Linked DNA regions of Homo sapiens: regions 1 and 3 are each linked to region 2. Evidence: fine-mapped expression QTL. A gene starts in region 2. Each other region holds a variant in brackets. All regions are shown on one strand. Distances are between the middles of the regions.

The links. PIP is the estimated chance that this variant, and not a neighbour inherited with it, causes the effect.
Region 1: its variant is fine-mapped to the expression of ODF2L in monocytes after LPS (Fairfax 2014, PIP 0.95).
Region 3: its variant is fine-mapped to the expression of ODF2L in CD4 T cells (Kasela 2017, PIP 0.95).

Annotation. Positions count from the first base shown.
Region 1 is chr1:86,437,751-86,440,516 of GRCh38, forward strand. It overlaps CLCA2 (chloride channel accessory 2), which reads left to right. Exons shown (of 14, transcript NM_006536.7): 7 at 1,126-1,356; 8 at 2,398-2,575. Among named protein-coding and RNA genes, the nearest start is that of CLCA2, 15 kb to the left of the region's middle. The variant C/T (reference allele first, on the strand shown) is at 1,620.
Region 2 is chr1:86,395,081-86,397,846 of GRCh38, forward strand. ODF2L (outer dense fiber of sperm tails 2 like) reads right to left here and starts at 1,243. Exons shown (of 17, transcript NM_001366781.1): 1 at 953-1,243. RefSeq lists an enhancer at 1,168-1,217.
Region 3 is chr1:86,444,747-86,447,512 of GRCh38, forward strand. It overlaps CLCA2 (chloride channel accessory 2), which reads left to right. Exons shown (of 14, transcript NM_006536.7): 11 at 2,762-2,766. Among named protein-coding and RNA genes, the nearest start is that of CLCA2, 22 kb to the left of the region's middle. The variant CT/C (reference allele first, on the strand shown) is at 1,470.

The DNA.
Region 1 (2,766 bases), 43 kb after region 2:
GTAAGAGAGTCCTGGGTTGCTGGCTTAGCTAGCTGGGAGTAGAGATCAAGATTGGGAGTGATGATCTGATGACCATGAAGATGGCAATAGCTATTCTATTGTGAGTGCTTACTCAGTATCCATTTTGCAGATGAGAAAACTGAAGCTAAAAAAAAAAAGTAATTTTACTATGATCACATAATTAGCAAAAGTTGAAGGCAGAGTTCTAAGTCCTTGTTTTACCCCCTTTACAACTTACTTCCCAATATTGTAAGAGAAACAGTATTAGAATTCAAAGTGTAGAGTTGCCATCTTCATGGTTGTCAAATCATCACTCCCAACTAGTTAAGCCAGAAACCTGTGTCCTAAGAAGTGTGAAATGCAGGTCTAGATCCACCCAGGAAGATGCTTGAGTTGGAGATAGAGATCAGTGTCATCCCTGAGTGGGTGGTCATTGAAGCTCAGCTTGCTGCTCCTCTCTTTTCCCAGAGCTTTCAAAACAAGTTACCCTAGTGAATTAATCAATAGCATCACCTGCCCAAAACTGGTCACTAATATTACTTTACACCTGGTTAGCCCTTCATGGTATAACTGTACTGCCATATATGTATCTCACTTGATCCTCATGGCAATTCTAATTTCATAAACAAGAAAGCTATCATCCTCACTCTACAGATGAAGTACCCAGCCTAAGGTGACCACAATAGCAGAGGGTAGTGCCGGGGCAGATCATGGGTCCTCTGACTGCCACTCCTCTCTAGCAAAGGTCTCTTTGCAATGTTTTCTTTTACCTGGACTGCATTTTTAAAACAGCAGTTACAAATTTCGTCTCAGCTGGGTTCATGAATCTTTGAATTCTAAGTTGGAGTGAAATAGTGGGGATGATGAGAAACAGAGAGTGGTAAATTATGAGCATCTTGTTGGAGGCAGAGCCCCAAGCCACTCCCTCTTCCCTGAAAGCATGCATTTTTGAGCCTGCAATTAATCAAACAATATTCTAATATTATGTTACTCTTTAAAGCTCAAAAAATTATGATCCAACATCTCTAAAGAATTAGCAGAGATGTTTGCTAATTGAGTTACTTCATCATACTTTTGTCTACTAACCAAATGTTGCCATTTTCTTTTTTCCTTTTTGGGACATAGGCTGACAGACTCCTTCAACTACAACAAGCCGCAGAATTTTATTTGATGCAGATTGTTGAAATTCATACCTTCGTGGGCATTGCCAGTTTCGACAGCAAAGGAGAGATCAGAGCCCAGCTACACCAAATTAACAGCAATGATGATCGAAAGTTGCTGGTTTCATATCTGCCCACCACTGTATCAGCTAAAACAGACATCAGCATTTGTTCAGGGCTTAAGAAAGGATTTGAGGTACAGTAGAGCATCCTAAGCCTTGGATCACCATCATTTTCCTTTCCCTCTTTTAGTATACGAGGTTTCCTCTGATGATGGGCAGTTTGTTACAGGGTGGTCATAACAGCCTCAACTATGAAAGTAATGATGGATTATCTTTCAAGTCAGGAACCATGCCTTATTCACCATTGTACTCCTTGTGCCTAGCAAAGTACATAGCATACAATAGTTGCTTAATAAATACTTGTTGACAGAATAAGAAAATAAATGAATACAATGGA[C/T]GAGACTAGAGGACCTAAACAACATCTGGGCATTTTCTAAACTGTTCCTAGCCATTCTGGGCCATTTTTACCTTTCAATTTTCTTGTCAAAATCAGCATGTCTAGCTTCTGTCTATAGTCATTCTAGACTTCACGCACATCAGAACCAATTAAGGCAACACATCACAATTAAGGCCAGAAGTGTGTTTCAGGAATGACAGAGTTTATTTAAATCAACACAAGTTTGCATTCAGCATCTGGGATGCTTATCTGATAGCAAACAAGACACATCAGCTATGGTTTTTGCTGCCCATGGTCTAAACCTTGGCTATCTATTGAAATCACCTGGGGATTAAAAAAAATACTAATGTGTGAGTCTAACCCCCAGAGATTCTGATTTAATTGATCTGGGATGTGACCTGACCATTAAAATTGTTTAAGTCTCCACATTTGATTCTAACGTGTAGCCAAGACTGAGAACCACTGCTCTAGGTGGTCACTTACTGGATCTCAGAGGCAAGCCTCTCACACAATAATGTATTCCACATCTTCTATGATGGATACAGTTCTAAACTATGGGGACACCTTGATGATTCAAGCAGGAAAAGTCCCTGCTCACAAGCAAACTGGCAGTGGAATGTAGGGTGACAAGTGCTGTGATGGGGTGAGGTAAAACTTGAGTGGAGATGGGCGTGGGGTGTAGGAGCTACAGTGGGAATTTGGATGAGAGTGAATTCTTTTGCTCAATAAAACAATTTGAACTACACTTCCTTCCAAGTGACTAATTCTCTATGTTCAGGTGGTTGAAAAACTGAATGGAAAAGCTTATGGCTCTGTGATGATATTAGTGACCAGCGGAGATGATAAGCTTCTTGGCAATTGCTTACCCACTGTGCTCAGCAGTGGTTCAACAATTCACTCCATTGCCCTGGGTTCATCTGCAGCCCCAAATCTGGAGGAATTATCACGTCTTACAGGTAATAAACTTTTAAAAACTTATCTTTTGGAGCATGTCCCTTTAACTTGACTATCCAAGACACAACTATGAAACTCATTATATGGCTTAATTGAAAATACAGAAATTGTTTTTAAAAAACGCACACACATATTGCTAGAATCTGTCAAAATTTTGCTGATTTTTTTTTTACATTTTCCCTAAAGGTTCCAA
Region 2 (2,766 bases):
GATCCGCCCGCCTCGGCCTCCCAAAGTGCTGGGATTACAGGCGTGAGCCACCGCGCCCGGCCCGGTTTGTTTCTTTAACCTTAACTCAGTTGCACTTAAAACTCCAAGAACCTCATTCATTCAAAAACACTTGAAACCGTACTATGCGTTGCGTGATGAGGAAACTGTCTTCGAAATAGATTTTATCCCCAACAGCAGCCCCAGTATGGTTATTCTCAGTAAACAACAAGCACCACCACTCACTAACCACCTACATTCGGTGCCACCTTAATGGCCCTGCGTTTACTTAATCTCGTATTACAACCACCCCAAAGTGATGATTACTGTTACAGTTATCAGTAAGGAATCCAGGAAGGTTCAGTGACCTAGACAAGGCCACACAGCGGGTTCAGTGGCAGAGCTGGGACTGAACACAAGTCGGCCTTTAGCACTCTCCACGACCCTAGGTCAATCCCGCACTACAGGGGTCGCCTATAGGGGCTGGAACCTAGAGGAATCCTGGAGAAGGAATTATTTCCTGAGGATTCCTGTAATATACCTCACTTACGAAGCCCCCAGGGCTTCCTACAATCTGATATATCACATGATGGGCGATTAAAAACCAGCCCAATGATTAAGAGGTCACTATTTCTGAAAGAAATGCAACCATATCCAGGAACGGCCCGGTCAGGACTTCGTTCTGCACAAGCCCACCTCACGCTAACATTTGCCCTGATGTCCCGGGGACCACACCCTTCCTAAGAGTGAGTCTCGCCGCCCTTTTCCCAGGCCAGGTAGTCAGCCTGAGGGAGGTGGAGGGTTTGCGCGGAGGGGGCTGGGTGGGCGCGAGGGCCTTTTACTTCCGGGACCCACCACTGCCCTCACCTCCAGACCGCTAAGGGCTCCCGCGGTAAACGCCCAGCAGCAGCTAGGCTCCCCACAAAGTCGCCCCCAACCCAAAAGGCGTACTTACGCCCCCGCCGCTGCGTCCGCACGTCGTCGTGACGACAGCCCGCCGTCGCCGCGATATAAAAAAAGGGTCAGAGGCGCCACGGCTGCTGCAATGGAAACCGTGGCAATCCTTCTTGTGCTCTGAGTCGGCTAGGAGGGAGCGGGACGCAGGGGGCACTACAGTGGGTAGACTAGGAAGGAAGGCAAGGGACGCGAGGTGGGAACCAGGCGAATTCCTAGACCTGCTTGCCGCAGAAGAGTGCCCGCTCAAGTGGAACAAAAGCGCAGCTAGTAACCGGCTAGTGGCTTCTCTGGCAACGGCGGCCCCACCCCTCCCGTCAGGCCCGCAGCAGGCTGCCGATTGGTCCGGGTTAGGGACGGCGGGCAGCGCCTATAGCTATTGGAGAGGGTGAGGAACGGGGCAGGGAGGGCAGCTTCGTGTCTATCCTTGTTTCTCGGGTAAACATTTTTTTTTAAGCGTTTGTTTATGGACAAGGACAGCATTTGTGTACGTTACCGAAAATCATAACCGAGCCCAACTAGAAAAAAAGGAAATAAAGCCAATTCCGAGTTTTCTGGCGCTTGGCCTGGTTGTGCCCTGCTTTTGCTTTTTAAAGAGAAGATTTGAAAACGTGAAGGCAACTGCGACCGGAAGAAACCTCCTTTTAAATGTATAGTAGTATTTTTAGCTGAGATGCCTCCCTGGGCCTCAGGTTTTTTCCTGTTAAATGAGGAAGCCTGAGGATGTTCTGCAAGGTGCCTTCAGGGTCTCAAAGTCTTTCGTATCTGTGCCACAGCCAGCTGGTCTGGTTTATAAAGTCCTGAAGAAGCAAAGCAAGATTTTAATTGGAAAAATATCTTCATTCAATGCCTCTACTTAATATTCATGTTAAGAATCGTACACCAACCTATGAAGTTCACAAGTAGAGTAACTGTCAACTAAGCCATAACCGTGGCATGCTGCTACCTAAATAATTGGTTTCACTAAAGCACTCCAGCAATGTTTTTCCACCAGTACTGTAATTGTCCCTTTCATAATTTAAAGCGGGAGACAGAATTAGTAAATTTTTTAGTAAAGGGCCAGTGATATGGTTAGGCTCTGAGTCCCCGACCACATCCCATCTTGAATTGTAATCCCCATAATCCCCACGTGTCAAGAGAGAAACCAGGTGAAGGTAATTGAATCATGGGGGCAGTTCCATAATCCCCACGTGTCAAGAGAGAGACCAGATGAAGGTAATGGAATCATGGGGGCCGTTTACCCCCATGCTAGTGAGTTCTCAAGCTATCTGATGGTTTTGTAAGGGGCTCTTTCCCCTCCACTGGGCACTTCTCCTTAACGAAGAAGGTGTCCTGCTTCCCCTTCACCTTCCGTCATGATTGTAAGTTTCCTGAGGCCTCCCCAGCGACGCTGAACTGTGAGTCAATTAAACCCCTTTCCTTTATAAATTACCCAGTCTCAGGCAATTCTTTATAGCAGTATGAAAATGTGCTCATACAGCCAGATAATATTTTATTAATAGGTTTTGCAGGTCATATGGTCTCTGTGATACTATTTAACTCTGCCATTGTCTTACCAAGAAAAGCCATAGATGATACATAAACATAAACATATGAGCTCACTAAAGTACGTTTGTGTGCAGGATGCAACACTACAGTGTTGGGTAGAAATTGTGATTTCTATCTTCATGGCAACAAATGGGGACTAGAATGTAAAAATAGCAGGCAATGAAATAGAATAAAGATACTTGAATACAAATAATACTTCAAAATTAAAAAGCAACATTTTAGATAACCTGTTTGCAGAGGACAAACAGAAGGTTAAATGAAAGTGTG
Region 3 (2,766 bases), 50 kb after region 2:
AAGTGAACAGGGGCTTGAATCCTGAAAGTGAAAGGGAACCACTGATGGTTCTAAGGAGAACTGTAAGTTGATCAGATTCACTCTTGCACTGCCTGAATTCAGTGCCTCCTCACATGCTGCCCCACCCCCACTTTTGTTGTTGTTGTTGTTGTTGTTGTTGTTGTTGTTGAGATGGAGTCTCGCTCTGTCACCCAGGCGGGAGTGCAGTGGCACCATCTCAGCTCACTGCAACCTTCACCTCCCAGGTTCAAGCGATTCTCCTGCCTCAGCCTCCCGAGTAGCTGGGACTACAGGCACTTGCCACCATGCCTGGCTAATTTTTGTATTTTTTGGTAGAGATGAGGTTTCACCATGTTGGCCAGGCTGTTCTCAAACTCCTGACCTCAAGTGATCTGCCTGCCTCTGCCTCCTGAAGTGCTGGGATTGCAGGCATGAGCCACCGCTCCCACCACCTTCTTGACAGCCCCTTAACTAGCCTTCTTGACTCTGAACTGCCATCCCTCCAGTCCATTCTTTACCTCTATAAAAGCGATCCTTCTGAAGCACAAATCAGTCTGTCTTTTGTTCAAAACCTCCTTGGTGGTTTCAGAATAAAATCCAAGTGTTAACCTTTTTTTTTTTTTTTTTTTTTTTTTAGCTTAGAAGATTCGCATTTATTCCAGATGGGAGGCTGAATCTCTCAGTTGTAGATTTTGACACATTGGCACTATTTTTGTTTCTGATTTATTGCCTTGGCCATAAGGTCAAAGGCAACAATAAAGTGTACTTTCATTAATATCACCATGGACTTTCGAGTATTAATATGACAAGAAAAGACAACTATTCATTTTTTTTAAGGGGATTGGACACACAAACTTCAGGAGGGAAGAATCCCCTCTCCCATGGTAGAATCCTCTATCTTGATAAAATGGTTGCTTTATTGGTCAGATTTTGGACTTGGATCGTCTTTGTTATAATATTAATAGTACAGAGCATGTAAGATTTTCTGCATTCATTTGAAATTCCTAATACCAACCATCTTTTAATTTATAAAAAAATGAGGGAAACTTATAATAAAACAAAAAATACTACCCTCACAGACGATTAATAGCATGCAATCTATGAAATATTACACACATTAAAAGTCTCCAATTACTGTGTGCCTGGCTCATCACACAGTATCCTTCCAAGACGATCTATAGAATTCAAAACTGTACAAAAATTTTAAAATATGCAGAAAACCCAAAAGGTATTTTGTAAAACAAAGATCACACACACATTAGTACTAAATAGGGAAAAAAAATCAGCAGACCCATGGACTCCCCCTGCTCCCAACTGCAGGTCTTCAGTATAGAGGATTTCACCAGTGTCTTCTGCACTCCCCCAATCCAGTAGGGGTCCAACAGACCAGCTGCATTCCTCCTGACTGCCACCAACTCTGTTTTCTGCATAGTTGTCTTCTCTGCTTCTGTAGTGGTGAGCTGTGGGAA[CT/C]TTTTTTTTTTTTTTTTTTTTTTGATGGAGTCTCGCTCTGTCACCAGGCCCAAGTGGTAAATCTTACATACCAGACCCTTCATGTTTTGGCTTCTACCCAAGCTTCTCTCTTAACTTCTTCGATGCTCTGCTCCTATTGAACTTTTCTCCAAATTCATCATGTTCTTTTCACACCTGTGTATAAGGGCCAGGGACACTTTACCTACTTCTTGCTCCCCTTGCCTGACCTCTTGGTCTGGATTAGATGCCCTGTATCAAAACATTTATTACACTCAGAGAACTTTTTGATGTGGAAGTTCCTGCCATGCATCTGTCACTAATGTTATGATTCAAAAAACAAAAACAAAAAAACATAGTCCTTGAATCATAACTTAATGGAAAATAGTGAAGCTCATGAATCCCAATGAAGAAAGATGGCTAGGGTGTGGTGCATCTGAACTCTCCACCCTGAGTTACGCTTCAACCCCTTGCTTTTCTGTTCTTCCTTCTGCTTTGTTGTGTTTCACTTGTTACTTCTGGGGGTTTGATAAGGAGCAGCAGCAGAAGTCAGGGAAAAGCAATATATGTATAGCTTAATCAAAAGGACGAATTTCTGCTATATTGTAATTTTAGTCTTTTTCTTTCAGATTTTCTTTTGTAGGTTTTTCCCAGGCAGATAGGCAAGAGTAGTGTTTAGCAGTATTTCTATAAATTACCCAAATTAGATATTGTATAATCCTGACCTATTAAAAATAGTAGGTCCTTTTCTTGGTCCCTAGTAGTGTATGTGTTTTTTGTTGATTGAGATTTCTGAGTGTGGAGTTTTTGGGAAGTGGAGTGAAAGAAGGATGTTGTTGCCTTTTTAGTCCACGGTGTCCACATAAATTATAATGGTCCAATTAATTTGATGTAATTTTCTCAGTTATGAAAAGAAATGAAAAACATTTAAACGCCTTTTTGGGGAAGGGGCTCAGATTAATATCTGTAAAGTACTTTGAAGCTGGACACTATTATTGTTATGTTCTAAAAATGGGAATCAAGATGTATCCTCCCTCACTCCAAATAAATTCGAGGTGTAATTCCCTAAAGAATTATCTAGAAATAAAGGTGACTTATGCTATGAAAGCCATGTAAATACAAATTTATTCATCCCTTAACCAATGCTACTTTTCCTGGCATCTTTTTGTAGTATTTTAAAAAGTGCAACATCAACAAAACAAGAGCAAAATTCTCCAGAAGTTTTGATGTATGCTTTAAAATTAGGGTTGATTTTTTTTTCACACTTTCCAAAACAATAAGACTTGTTTTACAGCCTGG